Linked DNA regions of Homo sapiens: regions 1 and 3 are each linked to region 2. Evidence: fine-mapped expression QTL. A gene starts in region 2. Each other region holds a variant in brackets. All regions are shown on one strand. Distances are between the middles of the regions.

What was found. PIP is the estimated chance that this variant, and not a neighbour inherited with it, causes the effect.
Region 1: its variant is fine-mapped to the expression of ADAM9 in caudate (GTEx, PIP 0.96).
Region 3: its variant is fine-mapped to the expression of ADAM9 in whole blood (INTERVAL, PIP 0.96).

The regions. Positions count from the first base shown.
Region 1 is chr8:39,981,131-39,985,130 of GRCh38, forward strand. IDO2 (indoleamine 2,3-dioxygenase 2) reads left to right here. Exons shown (of 11, transcript NM_194294.5): 5 at 1,522-1,640. Among named protein-coding and RNA genes, the nearest start is that of IDO2, 48 kb to the left of the region's middle. The variant C/T (reference allele first, on the strand shown) is at 2,197.
Region 2 is chr8:38,994,605-38,998,956 of GRCh38, forward strand. It overlaps ADAM9 (ADAM metallopeptidase domain 9), which reads left to right and starts at 2,369. Exons shown (of 22, transcript NM_003816.3): 1 at 2,369-2,556. The coding sequence starts at 2,460. It overlaps TM2D2 (TM2 domain containing 2), which reads right to left and starts at 1,905. Exons shown (of 4, transcript NM_078473.3): 1 at 1,609-1,905; 2 at 714-801. The coding sequence starts at 1,835. RefSeq lists enhancers at 1,033-1,555, 1,556-2,077, 1,686-1,875, 2,036-2,135, 2,196-2,245 and 1 more and a silencer at 2,576-3,005.
Region 3 is chr8:39,087,845-39,092,196 of GRCh38, forward strand. ADAM9 (ADAM metallopeptidase domain 9) reads left to right here. Exons shown (of 22, transcript NM_003816.3): 19 at 2,203-2,344; 20 at 3,415-3,502. Among named protein-coding and RNA genes, the nearest start is that of ADAM32, 18 kb to the right of the region's middle. The variant A/G (reference allele first, on the strand shown) is at 1,911.

The DNA.
Region 1 (4,000 bases), 990 kb after region 2:
GGCTCACTGCAAGCTCCGCCTCCCAGGTTCACGCCAGTCTCCTATCTCAGCCTCCCAAGTAACTGGGACTACAGGCGCCCACCACAACGCCTGGCTAATTTTTATATTTTTAGTAAAGACGGCGTTTCACCATGTTAGCCAGGATGGTCTCGATCTCTTGACCTCGTGATCTGCCCGCCTTCGCCTCCCAAAGTGCTGGGATTACAGGCGTGAGCCACCGTGCCCGGCGTGCATTTTTAAAAGTGTGTCTGATGCTGAAAAGTTTGAAGTCTAGGCACGTCCCAGTGGGTCCTCTTTATACCATCCCCTCTGCAAACCATTATCCTAAATTGGGGTTTGGGGGAGAGAAGAGTGACAGTGGAAAGAAGTCTCCACCTCCCAGCTGTGCCCTGGTAGTTCCAGGGGACCCGGAGGCTCCCCACACCCACCACCCCGCCTCAGATCACCTTTCACTTTCTTTGTTTCTCCTCCCTTGACTTTTCAGCTCAGAAAGTACCTGGCTCTCCAATGCCTTCTGAGGAAAGTTTACCCGAGGTTCACATTGCAAGACTCATTAAAGCTCTTTAGTGTTTTCCACCCGAGAAAAAATTCAAGGGAAAAATGAAGACAAAAGCAGGGCATTCTTAATGGATATTTTATCTTAAGGAGAAATGAAAATGGAGATGGAAGAGGGGGCACAAGGATGGGGTTTGAATCTAGACTCGTTCAGCCTTTACCTCCGATAGAGAACCTCATACAGCTTTTCTGGACTTCTGGCTGATAAAGAGCCGTGGAGGGTTCCTTGGATAAAAAAGGTTGAAGGGGGTCTGTCCTGTGGTGGCTTACTTGAAGGTATTACTGGGTTTGACTTATGGAGTAAGAGACGGAGTCAGTTTCCCCACAGGCTGAGGCAGTCTGTCCTCATGCTTTTCTAGGGCACTGTGGTCTCCCAGGCTCATACCTAGGTGCACACACAGGTTTCTGCATCTAGCTTTGTATCTCTATGAGTCGGTCAATCAATAAATCTATCTATCATCTGTCTACTGATCTATCATCTATCTATCTAGCTAGCTATCATCTCTCTATCATCTATCTATGTATCTATCATCTCTCTCTATATATGTGTGTATATATATATATATATGTATATATATATTTCTATCCTTCCATCTACTTACCTATCTATCAAAATTTTTTTCCGTTGATAATATTCTCGGGCCCCAGTTTATGTTTAATTGTTTTGGTAATGCCTTTCTTTGCACAGTCAGTTTACAGAGGTTATTTTATATTCTATATGTATGTGTGGTCCAGCGTTGTAATTTTCACATATATTGCACCGTGTACTCATAAGCAGTATTTCCACTGGGTCATTAACAGAAAGATATGTGTGCGGCATATGAATGTGCATCACTCAGGTAATTCAAGCTTGGTTCCCAGATCATTTCTGTACCACAGGATTGCCGAAATAAAAGACAACCATGGTTATTTCCTCTGCTGCAAGCTTTCTAGAATATGCTATTTGTCTGGATTTATATCTGAAAGGTCCTGCCAAGGAATCTTGCCCTTCCATTTGTCGAAGTCTCCAGGAACTTGGGGCTCCCTCCTATCCTGGTCCACTCAGACTTGGTGCTGACGAACTGGACCAAAAAAGATCCAGACGGGTAAGGAAGGAAGAGAATGCTTTGAATTTCCATAACTTTCCCCCAGGAAACACCCAGGCTTTTTTTTATAATTAGGGAAGTTCATATTTATGGTCTGCCGTATGGTTCCAAAGAAGGGGTGAGCTTGACCAAAAATTCAAATATCACAGGCCCCAGAAGTTTCCTCTTAATCCATTCTGAACACATTGGCTCAGACCATTTTGTCTTGTTTGTTTCCACATGACGTGTGAATTTCTCAACCTGACCTTCAAGCTCCTGCAAAATCAGCTTTTATTTGTTCTTTCTCTTCAAACTGTTTATTCCCTAAGATGCCCTCCATTCATATCAGGTTAAAACCAGTTGGCTTTGATAAGTAATCATTATATAATGATCAGAAGAGAATGATTATGGATGAATTCAGAGCAGATGCTCCAGGTGGGTTGGATTGAGAATTTGATTAATAATTCCATCTATTCCACCAAAGTCACATCATTCCTTTGACAGTTGGGCTGGGAATAGGGGCATTTGTCTACAGAAGGAATAGCATGAGATTTTAACAAACAAGAAATTCAACAAA[C/T]AGAATTAGACAGATGATCTGAGATGTTAAATTTTCCTTTCACCTTAATTTTTGCAGCCAAATTTATTTCAGCTCTAGATGAAAGAGACAGCACTTTCTTTTGTGGCTGACTACAACAGCTGAAGATTCACTGAGGTTTGATATGAGGAAGAACTTCCTCAGCCATGGGATTGCCAGAGGCGATGATGGGAATCTACTTAAAAGGGTTACATATTTAGTAGACAGCCTAGATTTTAAGACTAATTTATGTGCCCCGGCCGGGCCCGGTGGCTCACCCCTGTAATCCCGGCACTTTGGGAGGCTGAGGCAGGTGGATCATCTGAGGTCAGGAGTTGAAGACCAGCCTGGCCAACATGGTGAAACCCCGTCTCTACTAAAAATACAAAAAAATTAGCCGGGCATGGTGGCACATACCTGTAATGCCAGCTGCTCGGGAGGCTGAGGCAGGAGAATTGCTTGAACGAAGGAAGTAGAGGTTGCAGTGAGCGAAATCATGCCATTGCACTCCAGCCTAGGTGACAAACTCTGTCTCAAAAGAAAAAAAAATTATGTGCCCCATTGGAAGAAGTGAGATTCGGCCATCTCATCTCTCTCGGGAGCTCTGAGCCCTGGAGTTTTATGTTTTCTGCAATTATGAATTGTGATCCTTGATTAATTATGCTTTAATAATAAAATGGGTGACTACTGAAAGCTGCTGAATCTGGGTAAGAATTTGGATGAAAAAAATAATATATGTGCGTAATTTATTCTGTTCAAGGTACTGAATATTGAATAAGCTGGATTTATTACTCAAAGAGAAAGACAGAATAAGAGAAGGTTGAAGGGAAAAATGACTGTACTAGAATGGTAGTCAAAAATGCAACAACAGGCAGGTGCAGCGGCTCATGCCTATAATCCCAGCACATTGGGAGGCCCAGGTGGGCAGGTCACCTGAGATCAGGAGTTTGAGACCAGCGTGGCCAACATGGCCAAACCCCCTCTCTACTAAAAATACAAAAATTAGCCAGGTGTGGCAGTGGGTGCCTGCAATCCCAGCTACTCAGGAGGCTGAGGCAGGAGAATCACTTGAACCTGGGAGGCAGAGGTTGCAGTAAGCTGAGACTGCACCACTGCACTCCAGCCTGGGTGACAGAGTGAGATCCTATCTCAAAAACAAACAAAACAAAACAAAACAATAACAAAAAAGCTATTAATAGCTTCCTAGGGAGTAAGAGTGAAGGGCTAGTTTAATTCCAGAGATGCGGACACAGTCCTGGGTCTCACCAATTATTCTGCTTGGTAATTACCTTTTGAAGCCTTTTAATATGCCTAACACAGAGCTAAGTGCTATGAAGAAATGAAAGAAATAGAAGCAAAGTACTCCCCATGTGGTTAAATAACAAGACACTACATGACAAATGTCAAAGAGTGACTCAAACAATATGTCCTTTAGAATTTCAGAGAAATGACATCAATGCAGGCTTTACAAGTCAGTAAAAATCTTGGTGATGAGGCAGAACTTGATGTAAGGCAAATCCTAAAAGTTGAGTAGGAATCAACTAGCTAGAATAAAATGTGGGGTTGTGGTAAATACAAAAATGTAAGATGAGTGAAATAACTTATTTATTTATTTATTTATTTTCAGAGACGGAGTCTCCCTCTGTCTCCCAGGCTGGAGTGCAGTGGCATGATCTCGGCTCACTGCAACCTCTGCCTCCTGGGTTTGAGCAATTCTCCTGCCTCAGCCTCCTGAGTAGCTGGGATTGCAGGCACCTACCACCACACCCGACTAATTTTTGTATTTTTAGAGAGATGGGGTTTTACC
Region 2 (4,352 bases):
TCATTCTCTTAACATCTGACCAAATCTTGACTTGCATTATGTGGCATAATAGGATGGCGAGTCCATGGTGGGGAGGAGATACATGAACTTCATTGGTTATTTTGAGAGATTGATTAGGAACTGTACACTCAGCTTTAGGGATATTACTAATAAACCTTAATAGCGTTTTTCCATTCCAAGAAGCCACTGTTAACCAATGGCTTCCGCTGGAACGCTTTAATGTCCTACAAAGACATATACCGGTAGACTCTATCTGTCTCCTACGGACATGGTGGAACCTGTTTGCCTGGAGAAAAGAAATGTCATTGGCAAGAAAAGCTCTGCCCCAAATGCATGTGTAACAAAGATACTGCCCAATCCATCACCAGTGTTGCAAAGTGCACAGACTTCCTTTTGCTCTTTCAGGAAAGGTTCATGCCTTGAAGGAGAGTCAGGGGTGACATTTTAGTTTCAAAATCTGTCAGTGGCCAAAGGAACCAAAGACAGGTTGGTCTTTGCACCTGGGTGGTTTTAGCACAGAGATTGCTCCTTCATAAGGAAACCAAATATCTTGTTCAGTCACTGACCCTGGCCATACTGGAAATTTCCAGTAACGGTCTTTCTGAGGAAATTCTTCAAAAAACTTTGTACCTCTTATACTTTTATGTAATAGCATTCAGACATTCCTATTTCGTTATCGAAGGGTTTGCTCTTACGACAAAACAAAAACTCACCTTGAGACAACCATAACCAAGTTCCTGGGATGCAGTTGCATTTCCAACATGATCCACTGGGTCTTCACATTCTATAAATTCATCAGGTCTGTAATTCACCAGTAAGATCATGATCATCATCATACGGTCTTTGCAAATCGCTGTTTGCATGCACGTAATCAAAACGGGCAAAAGACATTTCTTCATCAAGTTTTCTGGGGTTCGGTTTCACCCTGCTGACCCCTTTCCAAGCCAATTAAACTGAAGCACAGCAGGTCAAACGGACAGCCACCAAAATGAACCTTTTGTTGGAGAAGGGAGGTGTTTCTGGTCCTGTTTCTATAAGGATTCTACTTCTGCCATGGTTTCATCTCTTCAGTAGGCAAACAACAAGATTCTGGGGGCAAAATTTAAGCCAAAGTATTCTCAGTCCTCTTTGCATTTCCCAAATGCCTTTTCTTGTTTGATCAAAAAGAGATGTTAAAAAATGGCGTGATTCTGCAACGGTAAGAATATTGATTGCTTTTTTAAAAGATGCCTTGTAGGCAGAGACAAGTCATTTACTCCATTTATGCCTTACTCAGTACTGGCACCGAATCGACCGACTAATACTCTCCTTGGGCTAAAGGGCGCAGGGCAAAGAAAGCACAACCTTACGCCCTTCTTCCAGAGGCTATATGATGTTACTCCTACCCAGTTTTCCTCTTTGGGGATCTCAAAGCCTCTGTCACTGACACACAAGAGTTTTCTCTGCACGGGCTGTGAGAAACCTGGTTCATGATATTTGCCTCCGGAACGACCTCAGAGAGGCAGGGTCTGAAAAAATGCAGCGTCCCCCCAACCCTGCCTTCCCTTAACACCCATATATTCCTGGCACACCCTCCACGTCCACCCGCCTCGACCACTGGTAGCTTACAGGTAAGAGCAGAGGATGACCGGAGAGTGGGGGTCGCCATATTCCCAGCTCGCAGCACCCCCGGGGCCCTCCGGCTGGGCGGCGCCAGCGGATGTGAGCTCAGGCTCAGCGGTCGCATTTTGCGAGTGGCTCCGAGACACACAATGCAGCAGAAGTAAATTCCCCAGCAGCAAAGCCGCCTGGCCGCACAGAAGTAAGTAACTAACCGGGCAACCACCTAGCACCATCTTCCCGGGCACAGGAGCGGAGACCCGGCCTCAACCACAACCCCAGGCCAGCAGCACAGACCCAAGAACTGCGTGGTCAGGCCTTTCCGCGTAGCCCCGCCCGCGTAGCCCCGCCAAACAGCCAATGGACGCGCAGCTCGACGCTCCGCGCACCTCCGCCAACCAACTAGAAAAGGTCGAGCAGACGGGCGGGGCTACTCCGCCCTCTGCTTCTGCTTCTCGATTCCTCTTCTGGGTCTCATGCTCCTCCTTCTTTTGCGCCGAATGCGTTCTCCAATCGGATCCGTCGACCCCCCTAGGTGGGCGTGCCCGGCAGCCGACGGGGCGGGGCGGATATGACTGGCGGGCCGACTAGTGCTGGTTGCCACCGCCGGTTTAGAAATCCTATTCTCGCGCCGGGGACTGGATTTTTCCCTACGTCAGCGCAGCTAGGCGATGTCGGGAGCGAGCTCGGACCGAGGGCTCAGTTGCGTCAGTGCCGCGCGCGTGCTCGTCGGGCGCGCGTGCTCGTCGGGCGCGCGCGCTTCCCGGCCAGACTTGGGGCCCCGGCAGGGTTGGAAAATGATGGAAGAGGCGGAGGTGGAGGCGACCGAGTGCTGAGAGGAACCTGCGGAATCGGCCGAGATGGGGTCTGGCGCGCGCTTTCCCTCGGGGACCCTTCGTGTCCGGTGGTTGCTGTTGCTTGGCCTGGTGGGCCCAGTCCTCGGTGCGGCGCGGCCAGGTGGGTGTCCGCGCCCCGGGTCGGTTGGGACGGCTGCTTCCTAGGGACGGGGCGCTCGGAGTGAACCTGTGGTGCCTGGGAGTGGAGGGGCCCGGCCTGGGGATCGGACCCGGGGTCGGGGGGCGCGGCCGCTCCAGGTGTGTGCGGACCGGGGTCGCACCCGAGGCGCGGGGTTTGGCGCCCCAAGCCCTTCTTGGCCCGGGTCCTCTGCCCGGCACCGCTTCCTCCGTGTCCTGTTCGATGGAGCCGTTCCCAGCGTCCCCCCATCCCTCGCCGCCTCGCGCGACCCCGGGTCCCCCAGACGCCCCGAAACCCGCTCTGGGGCGGGCGCTGACCTCGGCGGGCCGGAGCCCTGCAGGCTGGGCGCGCCCGCGGGCGTTCAGTCCTCCAAACGCCTGCAGGGAGGGAGCTGGCTCTCGCTCGTGGAGTTAATGTCGCTTGGAAAGAGACTGAGAGATGAAACTTTTGCTGCAGGTTATAATTTGAAATTTTGACGTTCATGGTATCCTTGGGTCAACACAGCTAAATTTAATGGTGGAATAAAGGTGGGTGGGAGGACGCTCATTTCTCTTGGGTCATTTTTGTAGTAAGAATATTTTGTAAACGATGTGCTACCTTTCTATAGCCAAACCATTCTTAAAAAATCTGTGTTTTTATTGGGTTCGTACTGTGTTAAATCCGGACAGATAATCCCTGCTCTTTTGAACTCACAGGATTATTGTAGGAATTAAATCATTTGTGTGAAATCGTTTTTGAATTGTGAAACTGCCCTTGACTATGTAAGATACTTGTATTGGAGATGCCCAAACATAGTGGAAGCAGATTGTCAGCACGCTGGCGTCTTTCTGGAAACAAGTTGTTTATTTTGGATTTTGTATGATATAATTGTTTGCATGGCTGTATTTTCTCTATCAGCGACAGAGGATGATGGAGAATGGGAGTTTTTACTAAATCATTGATTGAAAGTTATTCAAAGGTGATGATAGAAGATTTCAACGCAGGACTGTTGACCTTCAGGAAACTAATTACTTGTTTTTCTTATCTTTGGCTGCTTTATTTGAAATTAAGTAAATTTGCCCCAGTGTGGAAATGTTGAAACTCTGACAATGTTTTGAATGGGAAGTTGCCAAATTTCTTCTGGTTAAAACTACTTTTCCGGTGGTATTCTAGATGGTTAACACTCACCGATGTTTAAGGTGAAGACGATTATACATCCGGAGTTTTATTAATCTGTGATTTTTTTTTGTGTTTGTAAATGTAAATAAGACTGTATTTTTAAATGTTAATATAAATTGTCAGTCATTACCGACCTGCATTAGGTGAGTGGAATATCCTGATGGTCTTTAACTGTGGTTTTGGCCAGCTCCTCACTTCGGCATGTGTATGCCCCTTCAAAGTTTAGCCACCGTTTATGGAACTCCTATAAACACCACACAGTTGATTGTAGAGGGGCAGAAGGTGACCAAATATGCTAAGCGCATCTGAGAGATGTTGGGGAAGATTTTTAGAGAAAATAATATTTGAACTGGGCTACATCGGTGATTTTTCAAGTAGAATAGTAGATACATTCTAAGCAGAGGAAAGTTTTTGCAAGAGTATGGTGGGGCGGGGGGCGTATGAAAGAACATGACTTTTTAGGAAATGATAAAAATGTCAATATGTCTTCATGCAGACTATAAAAGGGAGGGATGGAAGATCAAACTAAGGTAGGTTGTTACCAGTTGGGAAGAGTCTTCTATGCTGAACTAAGGGGTTTGGACTTCACCCCGTAGGAAGTTCTTTGGGCAGTGGAGGTT
Region 3 (4,352 bases), 93 kb after region 2:
AACCCATGTGTAACTTTTGGCTTCCCCAAAACTTAACTACGAATAGTCTGCTGTTGACTGGAAGACTTACCAATAACATAAACAGTTGATTACCATAGATTTTGTCTGTTATATGTATTATATACTGTATTATTATAATAAAGCAAGCTAGAGAAAAGCAAATTTATTAAGAAAATCATAAGAGAAAATATATATACTATTCATTAAGTGGAAGTAGATTATCATAAAGACCTTCATCCTCATCATCTTCCTGTAGAGTAGGCTGAGGAGGAGGAGGAAGAGGAGAGGTTGGTCTCAGGGGTGGCAGAAACACAAGATAGCCTGCATATAAGTGGACCTGCACAGTTCAAACCCACATTGTTCCAGGGCCAACTGTATTTTGATTTTCAGTTGGGATAAATATTGTTTCATATAGTTTTATACAACTTTTTTTTTTTTTGAGATGGAGTCTCGCTCTGTTGCCCACGCTGGAGTGCAGTGGTGCAATCTCGGCTCCGCCTCCCGGGTTCATGCCATTCTCCTGCCTCAGCCTCCCGAGTGGCTGGGACTACAGGCGCCTGCCACCACGCCCAGCTAATTTTTTTTTGTATTTTTAGTAGAGACGGGGCTTCACCATGTTAGCCAGGATGGTCTCGATCTCCTGACCTTGTGATCCGCCTGCCTCGGCCTCCCAAAGCGCTGGGATTACAGGTGTGAGCCACTGCGCCCGGCCAGTTTTATACAACTTTTTACAGAAATTTCTGGTTCTTTTACAAACTTAAAATTATGAATCAGTTTACCACTCCCGTTTATATCTACTATATTGTTTCTCAAAAGAACACAGAACAGATAAAATACTTAAAGAATTTGTAAAAGTTCTAATGAAACTTAAAATCTAGAAGGCGTAAAAATAAGATTGATAAATTCAACTATACAAAAATAATAAACTTTTCCGTGGAGAAAAGCATAGTGCCATAGGTTAAAATGGGGAAAATATTTCCAACTTGTATCATGGACAAAGCTAATCTCTCTAATATATAAAGAACTTTTAGAAATTAAGAAGAAAAAAGCAAGAGTCCAGTAGAAAAACAGTCAAAGGACTGAGCAGAAAAAAATAAATAATGTTTCCTTAAGAAAAAAGTGAGGCCAGGCACGGTGGCTCACGCCTGTAATCCCAGCACTTAGGGAGGCCGAGGCGGGCAGATCATGAGGTCAGGAGTTGGAGACCATCCTGGCCAACATGGTGAAACCTGTCTCTACTAATAATACAAAAAAATTAGCTGGGCGTGGTGGCGCATACCTGTAATCCCAGCTACTCGGGAGGTGGAGGCAGCAGAATCGCTTGAACCCAGGAGGCAGAGGTTGCAGTGAGTGGAGATCGTGCCATTGCACTAGCCTGGGCAACAGGGTGAGACTCCATCTCGGGAAAAGAAAAGAAAAAAAAATTATCAACTCATAGTATAAAAAAATGTAAATTAAAATTCTATAAGAGAAAATTTTTCACCTGCCTGGTTGGCAAAAATCCGGAAATTTGGCTCTGTGGGTGAGGCTATGGGGAATTCTTATATATTGCTTGTAATATTCTTATAAATTGTAACCATTACTATTGAAAGACAATTTGACAATACCTAAAAGAAATGATGAATGCACTTATTTATTGATACAGCATTTCTGCTTTAGGGAAATTATTCTGTAGTTATTATACCTGCACTAATATGATACAACATATGTGCAAGGTTATTCATTATAGCAGTTTTTTTGGTAGTAGCAAAAGATTGGAAAAATATAAGTGTTTATCAGTAGGGTACAAGTTAAATAAACTCTAGAACATCTTCACAATGGAGTTTCATATAGCTGTATGGAAAACGAGGAGGTCCACTATGTACAGATAAGTGGAAAAAAACTGATGCACCAAATGGTATATAAATAGT[A/G]TGCTACCTTTTGTGTAAGAAAGTGTTGACAGTAGAAACGTATTTTGTTCTTGATTGTTTGCTCGAAGAAATACTGTAAGGTTACAGAAGAAACTAATAAAAGTGGTTATTTTTGTGAAGGCAGAAGTAAAGCGGACAGGAATGAACTTTGTGGAAGACTTCTCAATATATTCAATTAATATCAGTTTGATTTTTGAGTAATGTGAAAATTAATGTAAAGTGTTTATAATCATCTAGTATTTTCTGCCTAGTATGAGTTTGGTGACTGTTGATGTAAAATTCTTCTCTCTAGAAATGAATACTGCATTGAGGGACGGACTTCTGGTCTTCTTCTTCCTAATTGTTCCCCTTATTGTCTGTGCTATTTTTATCTTCATCAAGAGGGATCAACTGTGGAGAAGCTACTTCAGAAAGAAGAGATCACAAACATATGAGTACTTAGATTTTTTTCTTTTAATTCCTATATTAAATATATACATACATTTTCTGAGACAGAATCTCGACTTCCCTGGGCTCAGGTGATTCCCCCTGCCTCAGCCTTCCAAGTAGTTGGGATTACAGGCACACCACCACACCCAGTTAATTTTTATATTTTTTTGTAGAGATGGGGTTTCGCCATGTTGCCCGGGCTGGTCTTGAACTTTTTGAAGCCATCCATCTGCCTCAGCCTGCCAAAGTGCAGGGATTACTGGAGTGAGCCTCCACGCTCAGCCTATATTAAATAATTTATAAAGTATTAATGCTGATAGTCATATCACCAGAGATTGGTAATCCTCTAAAATAGGGTTCTAAGTTATTTCTCTGACCTTTTGACATGATTAGCATGGGTTGAAAGGTGGTGGTGACCAAGCCACCTCTTTTAATGGGGAGGAGAAAGGCTTATGTTGGTCAGCCTTTAGGCTGCTGAAAGTGACCCTCAGGGTTCATTTTGCTTAACACCAATTTCTGATAGAGGACTAAGTAGATACTTCGTATCATACTTCCAACTGACCAGTCTATGCAAATAACTCCCCCATCTGCATTTTTGAAGTTTGAGTTCCATAACTACAGCTATCTTTCATACATCTCCACTGCACTGATTTGCTGTCACTTCAGCATGTCTAAAACTTACCTATTACCTTTCCAGCCAATCCATTCACTACCCTTGGATTTCCTAATTTTTAAAATGACTACTTGGCAACCTGAGAATATGCTTTTACTCTTCTCTGATTTTAGGAAGACTTGAGAAAAGTTAGGGAACATTGGCCTAATTGACCAAATTTCACAATTTCTTAAAATTTCAGTTTAATTATAAAATGTGGTTAGTAATGCTTTCTAATACCATAAGGATTAAAAATACGTGAAAGCTGTTAAAATGCCCTAAAAATTTAAACCGTATCATGATTATCATCCCCACCACTACCAACATCATTATTCTGTATTTGGGAAAATGCAAAATGTGTGTAATATTTCATGTAGAAATGTTTTTATCTTAATTTAGATCAAAAGTAATTGTATCTTTCAGGTCAGATGGCAAAAATCAAGCAAACCCTTCTAGACAGCCGGGGAGTGTTCCTCGACATGTTTCTCCAGTGACACCTCCCAGAGAAGTTGTAAGTATAAAATGAAAAATTATTTTTCTTTACTGTATTAAAGGATCAAATGCTTAAGGATTAAAAACACAGTTATATAGCTATAGCTAGAAACATAGATACCTTCTTAAGAATTCAAGAGTATTGTAGGTGGTCCCTGAGTTTTTTGTTTTTGTTTTCGAGACAGAGCCTTGCTCTGTTGCCCGGGGTGGAGTACTGTGGCACAATTGCGTCTCATTGCAACCTCTGCCTCCCAGTTTCAAATGATTTCGTGCCTCAGCCTCCCGAGTAGCTGGGATTACAGGTGTGTACCACCACGCCTGGCTAATTTTTGTATTTTTCATAGAGACGGGGTCTCACCGCATTGGCCAGGCTGGTCTTGAACTCCTGACCTCAAGTGATCCACCCGCCTTGGCCTCCCAAAGTGCTGGGATTACAGGTATGAGCCACTGTGCCCTGCCCCCTGAGTTCTTTAAAGGAAAACCAGCGGAGTCCTTGGCTCAGAGGACACAGAAAAAGACAGCTGGACATTAGGAATGCCTTGCCTAGCAACCAGGATTGGGAAATGACATGGGACGTATGCTATCACTGCTTTTTTCTGTGTCTGCTCTTTTCCTATTTTCAATACCTGTCTCCATCTCCCTATGGGATGTTACCAAAGACCTGGTGCTGAGCTCTTGGATCGGCCTAATTGTCTAAGCTGTAGGACTGATAGTCACTGTTCTGCAAGTGTATTAGGGAGTGTTTAGATCATGATATACTTTTATTGAGTGTTTAGATCATGATATACTTTTATTGATCTGCATGTATCCCTAAGCAATATGTAATTTTTTAATGTTTTAAAACTTTTAAGAACGTTTTATTTGATAAT